Linked DNA regions of Homo sapiens: region 1 is linked to region 2. Evidence: fine-mapped expression QTL. A gene starts in region 2. The other region holds a variant in brackets. All regions are shown on one strand. Distances are between the middles of the regions.

Region 1 (4,396 bases), 30 kb after region 2:
AAGGTCAGGAGATCGAGACCATCCTGGCTAACACGGTGAGACCCCGTCTCTACTAAAAATACAAAAAAATCAGCCGGGCGTGGTGGCGGGCGCCTGTAGTCCCAGTTGCTCCGGAGGCTGAGGCAGGAGAATGGCGTGAACCCGGGAGGCGGAGCTTGCAGTGAGCCGAGATCGCGCCACTGCACTCCAGCGCGCCACAGCACTCCAGCCTGGGCGACAGAGCGAGACTCCGTCTCAAAAAAAAAAAAAAAAAAAGGCAACACACACACACACACACACACACACACACACACTTCTTAAGAAGTGACTGTGAAAGGAGGTTATAAGTTCAGTAACCTTTTTAACATCCTGTTTTGGGCAGATACAGTTGTAGAAGAAGGCGGAGCTGTTCTTATTGTAGTAGCCTGTGTAATCTAGGTCATCACAGGGCGGGCTGGTGCAATTCTCTGGAAGGGGGAACTATGACTGCATCAGGGATCCAACGTCAGCAGCTGAACATGACAAAACTGTGGAGTTTATTGGGACATAAAGAGCACTCAGGAACCTTCTTTGGCTCAATTTTAATAGTTGTCAAACAGAATAGAAATGTCTGCCCTTCCAGGGCAGCCATTTTTGTACAACTCCAGTGGGGATGTTGTTCACAGTGGGGAGGTATCATTCACATGGAATACATGATCATTGGGGCCCCTGAAGTTGTGCAATGTGGAGGTACTATGGTCTATTTATCTTCCAAGATTGTTCTGAGAGGCTCAAGTTACACAATGAATATATAAGGACTTTATAAGCCTGTCAATATTCGTAAATAATGACAATAATAAGTGTTGTTTTCTGGCCAATTCTGCCCTTTGAGCAAAGCTTTCTTATCTAGTTTGCACTACTGGCTAAGACTTGGCTTAGCACTCACAGTGAAGCTGTGGAGTTCTCTTTCTGAATATATACATTTTCACAGAACACAAACTTCACACATGATCTCTTTGTGACTATAATGGAGCAAGATGGAAATTAGACTACTTCATGATCATTTCAGAACAGAGAAAAATAAGAACACTGTCCAATCCATGAAAATGAGTGAACATTCCCCTTTCCTGGCTAATAATGAATAACTGCTGATTCTTTCCAATTATAGCATTAGCTTACTTCATTCCTTTCAATGTTTAGATAAGAATAATTAAGATACCTAATCAGGGAATTCCCCCTGTTTCTGTACAACATCCAGTCCAGGGAAGATCCCCATTTTCTTGAAAGCTCCCCCGAATCACCTACCACAAACTCAAATCCTGTAAGTTTTTTCTAACACCTTCTTACTGATATGCTCAAGGGTCTCCCATGGTATTTGTTTCTCCCCCTTGCAATGAATTAATAAACCCAGTTTTATAGAACTGCAGATGTGTTGCTGGTGGTCTTTGACTAGAGGACATTGACAAATTCATACAGTAGTTATTACTCAGCCAGGAGCCCTCTCTCTATCTCAGTCAGAGAGGTGGCTCCTCTGACTTCTCTAAGGATTTTGTCTATGGCATTGGTGCTGTTTCAGAGCCCATAGCTGGACATGTAAACATCAGAACCAAATAACATAAATTTCCAGTTTTATTTATTTTAATATGTTTTAGAGACGGTGTCTCACTCTGTCACTCAGGTTGGAGTGCAGTGGCTCAGACATGGCCCACTGCAGCCTGGACCGCTCAAGGCTCAGGTAATCCTCCCACCGCAGCACCCCAAATAGCTGGGACTACAGGCATGCACCACCACATCTGGCCAATTTTTGTATTTTTTATAGAGACAAGTTTTCACCATATCACCCAGGCTGGTCTTAAACTCCTGAGCTCAGGCAATCCGCCCACCTCGGCCTCCTAAATTGCTGGGTTTTACAGGTATGAGCCACCTTGCCAGGTTTGCAGTTTTCTTTAGATTTGCTTTGTGATAAGGTGGTAAACTTGTTAGAATAAAGGGATTATGTAAATTTCTATTTAGTGAGTAATCAAATGGTACACACATCTAAATTAAATGTCTAAGATAGCTTAGTTATTAAGCAGCTTACATGGAAGACAGCAGAGTATACATATGTATATCTACACAAATATTTAACAGAAACACTGTAAAGAGATTCAGTAATATTCATGCTAAAATGAGAAGAAGACTAGGGAGGTAGTGAATGAAGAATCAAATCAGTAGTATTTTGTAGGGAATAAATTATCGAGGAAAATTTATGGAAAGAGAAGATCTGAAGGTGCAGTTTAAACGAGATGACTATTTTTGCTACCACAGACAACAAAAAGTTTTTCCAGAGTCTGGATGGTACATTTTTAATGTATGGTCATGGTTAATCATGTGTGCATCCTCTTATACTCTGGGGCAATAAAATGTTTTAATAGGTGAGTACCATAATATGAATTAGTAATTTTGTATTCATAACTTGTAGGCAGATGTGCAAAGGCTCTAAAAATCTGCATAA[T/C]GTATGCCTAACCTAAATCACACATATAAAAACATGTTAACAGGATTGTGCTTGGTTTTAAGTTCAGTTTCTATTTTAGTATTCACATTGCTCATCCTTGCTGAAACTCACTTTTCTCATTTATAAGAGTTATAGGAGGAGTGAATACGATAATGCATGTGGAACTGCTTCATGAACTGTGGTACATTAATTAATTTTAGTTTTGGATCCTGGCTCTGCTCTAAGGTTTTCTCTTTTCCAGCTTAGTGTTGTTTTGAGGGTGAACACTGTGCTAGGCATATGCAGAAAAAGTAGCAATTATTCTACCTTTAGATGTTTTGCTATTAACATAGTTTCTAAAATTACTCATCTGTGGGGTGTTCAATAAATATTTCTCTACTGACTAACATATGACAGGCAGATCAGTTAATTGGATGTAATACTTTCATTCATACAGTGTAGCATGTGATCTTATACATGGAAATTGGCAAAATGTGCCAGAGTTACCAAACTGGCTTTCAGGATCTAGTTGTGACAGTCAGTTTTGGTTTATTATCTCTCCTGTATTTGCTGTGACTTGTACCTGTTTATATAATCTCATGTATAACATCAAATCTCTTAGCAAGAATTTAACACTGACTTTGAATGCAGTTAAATCTCAACCTGATTAAGGATTGTTTTCTAATACAACTCTTTCCCTAAACCTCAAAACATTTAGAGAATTCTAAGGGTCTTCTTTTGCCTCAGTTACCACTCATAGCACTAATGCAATGGGTTGGCTGCTTTGGCATTATGGGATGCTTGTTTTGACTATTGAGGTTTTGAATATTACAAATATAGTGAAACAATAGTGAAGCACAGATTGCCCAGAAAGGGTAAAGTTTCAACATCTTCCCACAAAAACAATGATTGAGTCTTTTCATTAGTTAGCTCCTAAAAAATCAGCATAAAACTAGATAATAATAGGATACCTGCTGATCTGTGAGATAAAAACATTCTTTTAAATTGCATGCCAATTTGAAAAGATAAATATTGATGCCAATGTACTGGTGATGAAGTGGGGGCCTGGGGTGTGGGGATGAGACCAGCTGGCAGACATTGGCTAAGCCAGACCCTGGGCTGAGTTGGATTGCATAGGCCTTGTGACTCTATTATTAAACACAGATCCTGAGGGTGAATGACAGCATCTGTGAGATTTTTGAGTCAGTTCTGAAGTAGGTTCTCAGCCAAGTTAGGCAGACATAGAAAAGTAATTATAAAATGCCTAGGCACCAGCCCCACCTAGAGTTGATGCTTAGAATGAGGTAGATAGTAGCAGAAGGAGCAGTTTTTTAAGCCAGTGAGCTTTACAGTGGGGGAAGGGGCAGAATGGGGAAGTCCTTTATTCTGAGCTCTTAAGCATGCCAGGAGCAGATGCCTGATTTTACTGTGTGGCACTTTGTGGCCCAGAAACTTTCCAGATTCTGTATTTTCCTATCTGGTTAAATGTAACTGTATTTACCTGTGTTTCAAAGCCTGAATGCTTTATTTATTCTCTACTTAATTTTCTTTTCCAGTTTTTCCTAACAAGCTTCCCTAGATTTACTTGTTCTCACTTCCTAGACGCTATTTGTATTCTTCCTTCTTCTCTAGTTCATTGGAAATTTCTGCTTCTTTGAGACTGAGGTTATATTCCACTTCTTCTGACTACACCACCACCATCAATCTCCTTCTCTGAACTCTTGGATCATTACTTCAACCTGAAACAACTCATCAGGTATCTATAAAGGTGGTTATTTGAGTTCCTGTTTTTAGGATTCCAAAATGATGCCAAGATATGTAAAATGAAATGTTAATTGCATTTTTTTTGAGGGGGTTAGAACTATGTAAGTCCCAAAAGAGACAAAGAGTTTAGCTCAAAGCTATCAGATGTTGGAATCAGAAGTTTGGCTTAGGTTAATAAAATGTTTTGCTGTTTAATTTACA
Region 2 (4,396 bases):
CCACACCTTGTATATCACTGAATCTGGATTATGATAGACAAGAAGTGGAAACAAGCTCTAGAAGTGTCCCAAATCTCCTGTGCCATTTAGGCCATCGAAGCCTGACAGTGAGAGACAATGAAGAAAAGCCACAGGCAGGTGAAAATCCAGTAACTTTGGCAGGGCGGAAGCTGAGGAATTTATCTGATGCTGGATACTCACAGCTTCTGGCCAATCAGGCATCGGGGATGACGTATTTTCACATTAGATATAGGAGGAGGAGAAGAGAATGTTGTAATCATGGATGTTAACTCACTAAGAACTGAATGCTGGGCCTAGTTAAATCCCTGTAGGAAGTAAAATACACAAGACTAGTGACCCATTGACTAATACACAGTCACAGGTCTATGGCACGCGGTTGTAATGTTCTTCTGAAAACAGAAACTAATGCTAACCTTCCCTTAAAACCTGTACAAACCAATAAGTGAAAGCCATTTACAATTTCTGGCCATTTAACAGTCTTTTGGTTCAATTTATTGTGGCAAAAATAGCACACATTTCCTCTACTTAATCTTCCCTGTGAGAGAAACTGAGACTGGGAGAAACTGAACTGCTAGTATTGAGTTTGATATAAAACGTTCCTGACAACACATAATAAACCAAAACCAAAATAAAAACAATAAGAAGCAAAACATCCTTGATTCTAAAGCAGTGCGGTCCAATAAACATATAATGTGAACACCACCACATACAATTTAAAATTTTCTCGTGGCCACATAAAGTAAAAAGAAACACATAAAATGAATTTTAATCTTATATTTAACCCAAGATATCAAAAATGTTATTTCAGCATATAATCAATAAACAAATAATAAAATATTATAAGTTCTTTTTTTAATAAATACTAAGCATTCGAACTCTGGTATTTTACACTTAGGTCACACTTCAATTCGGACGGGCACATTTCAAGTGCTCAATAGCCACCTGTGGCTAAGAGCTACCTACTGGACAGTGCAGCCCTACAGCCCAATTTCAAAAATAAGGAAAAAACAAAGCAAACAAAACCCACACCCACTATATATAAACACACATCAATTTCAGTAAACCCAGCGTTTAGAGTTAGGCAGTGATTGCTGATTTTTGGAGTACGGAGCCAGAACGCCTAGGAGTAAGAGGGAAGGAGAGAAAGGGTAATGGAGAGATGTGTGGAGGAATGCAACTGCTGCATCTCCAGAGAAGCCTGTGCTCCCTACGGTGCCAGAGCTTGAAGGGTGGGTGCTCCCTATCTCCCAAGCTTGAAGGGCTCCCTAGAGGTGACGAGGTGAGGCCGGCCCCAAGCGGTCACTGCCATTTGGGCTCTAGAGCCCGCTTGTCAGGGGGCTTGAGGGGATGCAGGAGTTGAGGGCTCTTCCAGGGAACCCCAGTGACTGCCTACCTGTCGAGCAGCGGAGTGTGGATGTGCAGGTGCTTCACGGCCACCTGGACGCGCCAGTCTGCGTGGCGGGCGGACGACACAGTGCCAGAGGCGCCGCGGCTCAGGTAGCGCAGGTCGGCGAGTTTGTGGTAGGGAATGGTGGGCAGGGCGCTGCAGATGGCCTCCCCGTTCATGGTCCCGGGCGCTCAGGCCGGTTCCGGGTGTGCCCCCTGCTGCGGCGGCTCCCAAGGCTCCCACGCCGCGCTCAGGCGCCCAGATACGCCCCTGCACGAGCGAGGCCGGCAAGACCCTTTTTGCCCCGCAACACTAGGTCACGAGGGCGCCCATTCCCCGGATGGCCCACGCCAGCCGCTGCTTCTCCGAACCAGAGCTGACTTCTTTTCTAGAGACTGGTGCCAACGCCGTAGCGCCGCGAAAGAGCTTCCTCTCTCGCAGCCCCGGCCCTCCCCCCGGCGCGCGCAGCGACCAGCTCCGGCCGCCCGAGCTCCTCCCTCCCCAAACTTCGCAGGTTACGTCAGCGGCGGACGGCAAGGCGGGGAGAGGGGCAGCCCGCTCGCGGCCCTCCCGCCTGGCTCTCGCCTCGGCCTGCGGCCGGGATCCTCCGCCCGGGTCGCGCAGCGGAGGCCGAGGGCTGGGACGGGCGGCTGGGAAGTGGGAAAGGGAGCTCCTTTTGTCTTCTCTTCCCATCCCCCAGGTTTGGGAAAGTTTTCCTTTTGGGAAAGCCCCTCTCTTCAGCCTGCTGGCGGGTGTCGGATTGGTTAGCGACCACCGGCCCCCGCCTCCCCCAACAGGATTCTCCTTTGGGCCACAGGTCTTCCGGAAGTTGCCAAACCCCGGTAGCGGCAGCGTCCGGCTGGGGGCTTTATTAGGGGGCACCGGGGTCTGCTTTCCGACTCCCTTCCGACTCCGCGCCTGCGCAGGAAGCGATTTGGGGAGTGTTGTGAATTCCGAGGGCTCCACACTTAAGAGGTTGTACACTCACCTGTCTACCTGGACTCCAATTTCCATATTTCCAGCCACTTGAGGACTGAGAGGTGGATGATAAACCCTGTCATAGTGGAGCAAGTTCAGGTGTTTAACCGCTGTTATGGGGGATCTGCCTTTTCTCCCTCTTCTTTCTTACTTCCATAAGTATGTATGTGCAGAGATTGAAAAATAACCTTGAGAGAGTCCATCCATCTAACTCCAGGTAAGACTGCAAATATTTCTTTCTTATAAATCTGGGAGGAATGCAGTCAGTGTTTCATGCCAACCAAAAAAGACTGCAAACGTTTTTCCATCCTTCTGCCTTGAATACCTTTCTACTTAGATGACTATTTTGTAAGACGTGAGTGCAAATGTTATATACAATACCAACTCCATACTAGATGTTTAATTAATTCTAGGGATTCAGTAATAAGGAATGACTCGAACAGATTTCTGCCTACAGACAGCTAATGCTTCTTGTATTTTTGCATTACCTGAAATGAAAGTAGCAATGTTAGATTTTACAGTAGTGGGAGGTTGTAAACAATAGTATGTTAAACATTTTTGATCATTTATAATAAAATGTTCAGCACTAAACATATGGTCTGATACTCTGTGCTTTATTGCTTAATAAGCTTTTTTTTTTCTTTTCGAGAGGGAGTCGTGCTCTGTCACCCAGGCTGGAGTGTAGTGGCGCGATCTCTGCTCTGCTCATTGCAACCTCTGCCTCCCTGGTTCAAGCAATTCTTCTGCCTCAGCCTCCCAAGTAGCTTGGATTACAGGCGCCCGCCACCACACCCAGCTAATTTTTGTATTTTTAGTAGAGACGGGGTTTCACCGTGTTGGCCAAGCTGGTCTCGAACTCCTGACCTCGTGATCCGCCCACCTTGTCCTCCCAAAGTGCTGGGATTACAGGCGTGAGCCACCGCGCCCGGCCAATAAGCTTTTTTCTTAAAAAGTACTCAGAAGACTTTTCTATCCATTCATTCTGTTAACGCGCGTCAGTGTGAAGAGACCACCAAACAGGCTTTGGGTGAGCAATAAAGCTTTTAATCATGTGGGTGTAGGCCGACTTAGTTCGAAAAAGGAGTCAGCAAAGGGAGATAGGGGTGAGGCAGTCTTTATAGGATTTGGGTAGGTAGTGGAAAATTACAGTTAAAGGGGGTTTTTCTCTTGCGGGCAGGGGTGGGGGTCACAAGGTGCTCAGTGGGGAGCTCCTGAGACTCATTGTCCAGGAGAAGGAGTGTCACAAGGTCCATTGATCAGTTAGGGAAGGGCAGGAACAAATCGCAATCGTGGAATGTCATCAGTTAAGGTAGGAACTGGCTATTTTCACTTTTGTGGTTCTTCAGTGGCTTCAGGCCATCTGGATGTATACGTGCAGGTCACAGGGTATATGATGGCTTAGCTTGGGCTCAGAGGCCTGACATGTTTATCCAGTCAATTAATTAAAAACCTGAGTCCTAGAAAAAGAGAACAAAAAATAAACAGGGAAGAAATGATCAAAATAATAATTTAAAAATTTTTGCTAGGGCAGGAGTCTTCATATTTAAAGGGCCCACCAAGTAAAAAGACCTACATTAAGGCACATACATCATTAAAAGGGTGAGAACACTAACACTAAAGGGAAGATTCTAAACGTTTTCAGAGGGCGGAAACAAAAATTAAAGAGATGGGAATTAGAATGGCATTGAATTTCTTAACAATGTTACTAAGTCATTGTTATCCTGAAATATAATGAAGTGAAATTTTTCCAATATTCTGAAGGACAGTAACTTCCAACTTAGAATTCTATAGTCAAACTTTCCGTCAAATGTAAGGGCAGAATAAAAACATTTTCACATATACAAGAATGAAATACTTTCTTTCCATGTCATTTTTTTTTTTTAAAGAAAGCTCCTAGAGAATGTGTTCAGCAAAACATGGGAGTAGCCCAAGAAAAAGAAAGACATGAGATCCAGAAAACCGGACCAGGAAATTAAGAAGGGAAACTCCAGGATGAGAGAAATATGGCAG

Evidence for each region. PIP is the estimated chance that this variant, and not a neighbour inherited with it, causes the effect.
Region 1: its variant is fine-mapped to the expression of PARAIL in whole blood (TOPMed, PIP above 0.99).

The regions. Positions count from the first base shown.
Region 1 is chr8:89,725,309-89,729,704 of GRCh38, reverse strand. PARAIL (palmitic acid regulated anti-inflammatory lncRNA) reads left to right here. Exons shown (of 5, transcript NR_125822.1): 2 at 4,064-4,187. Among named protein-coding and RNA genes, the nearest start is that of PARAIL, 30 kb to the left of the region's middle. RefSeq lists enhancers at 1-2, 3,597-3,696, 3,747-3,796, 3,827-3,876, 3,452-4,001 and a silencer at 203-252. The variant T/C (reference allele first, on the strand shown) is at 2,453.
Region 2 is chr8:89,755,252-89,759,647 of GRCh38, reverse strand. It overlaps PARAIL (palmitic acid regulated anti-inflammatory lncRNA), which reads left to right and starts at 1,937. Exons shown (of 5, transcript NR_125822.1): 1 at 1,937-2,603. RIPK2 (receptor interacting serine/threonine kinase 2) reads right to left here and starts at 1,832. Exons shown (of 11, transcript NM_003821.6): 1 at 1,415-1,832. The coding sequence starts at 1,587. RefSeq lists enhancers at 1-78, 1,357-1,426 and a silencer at 1,967-2,086.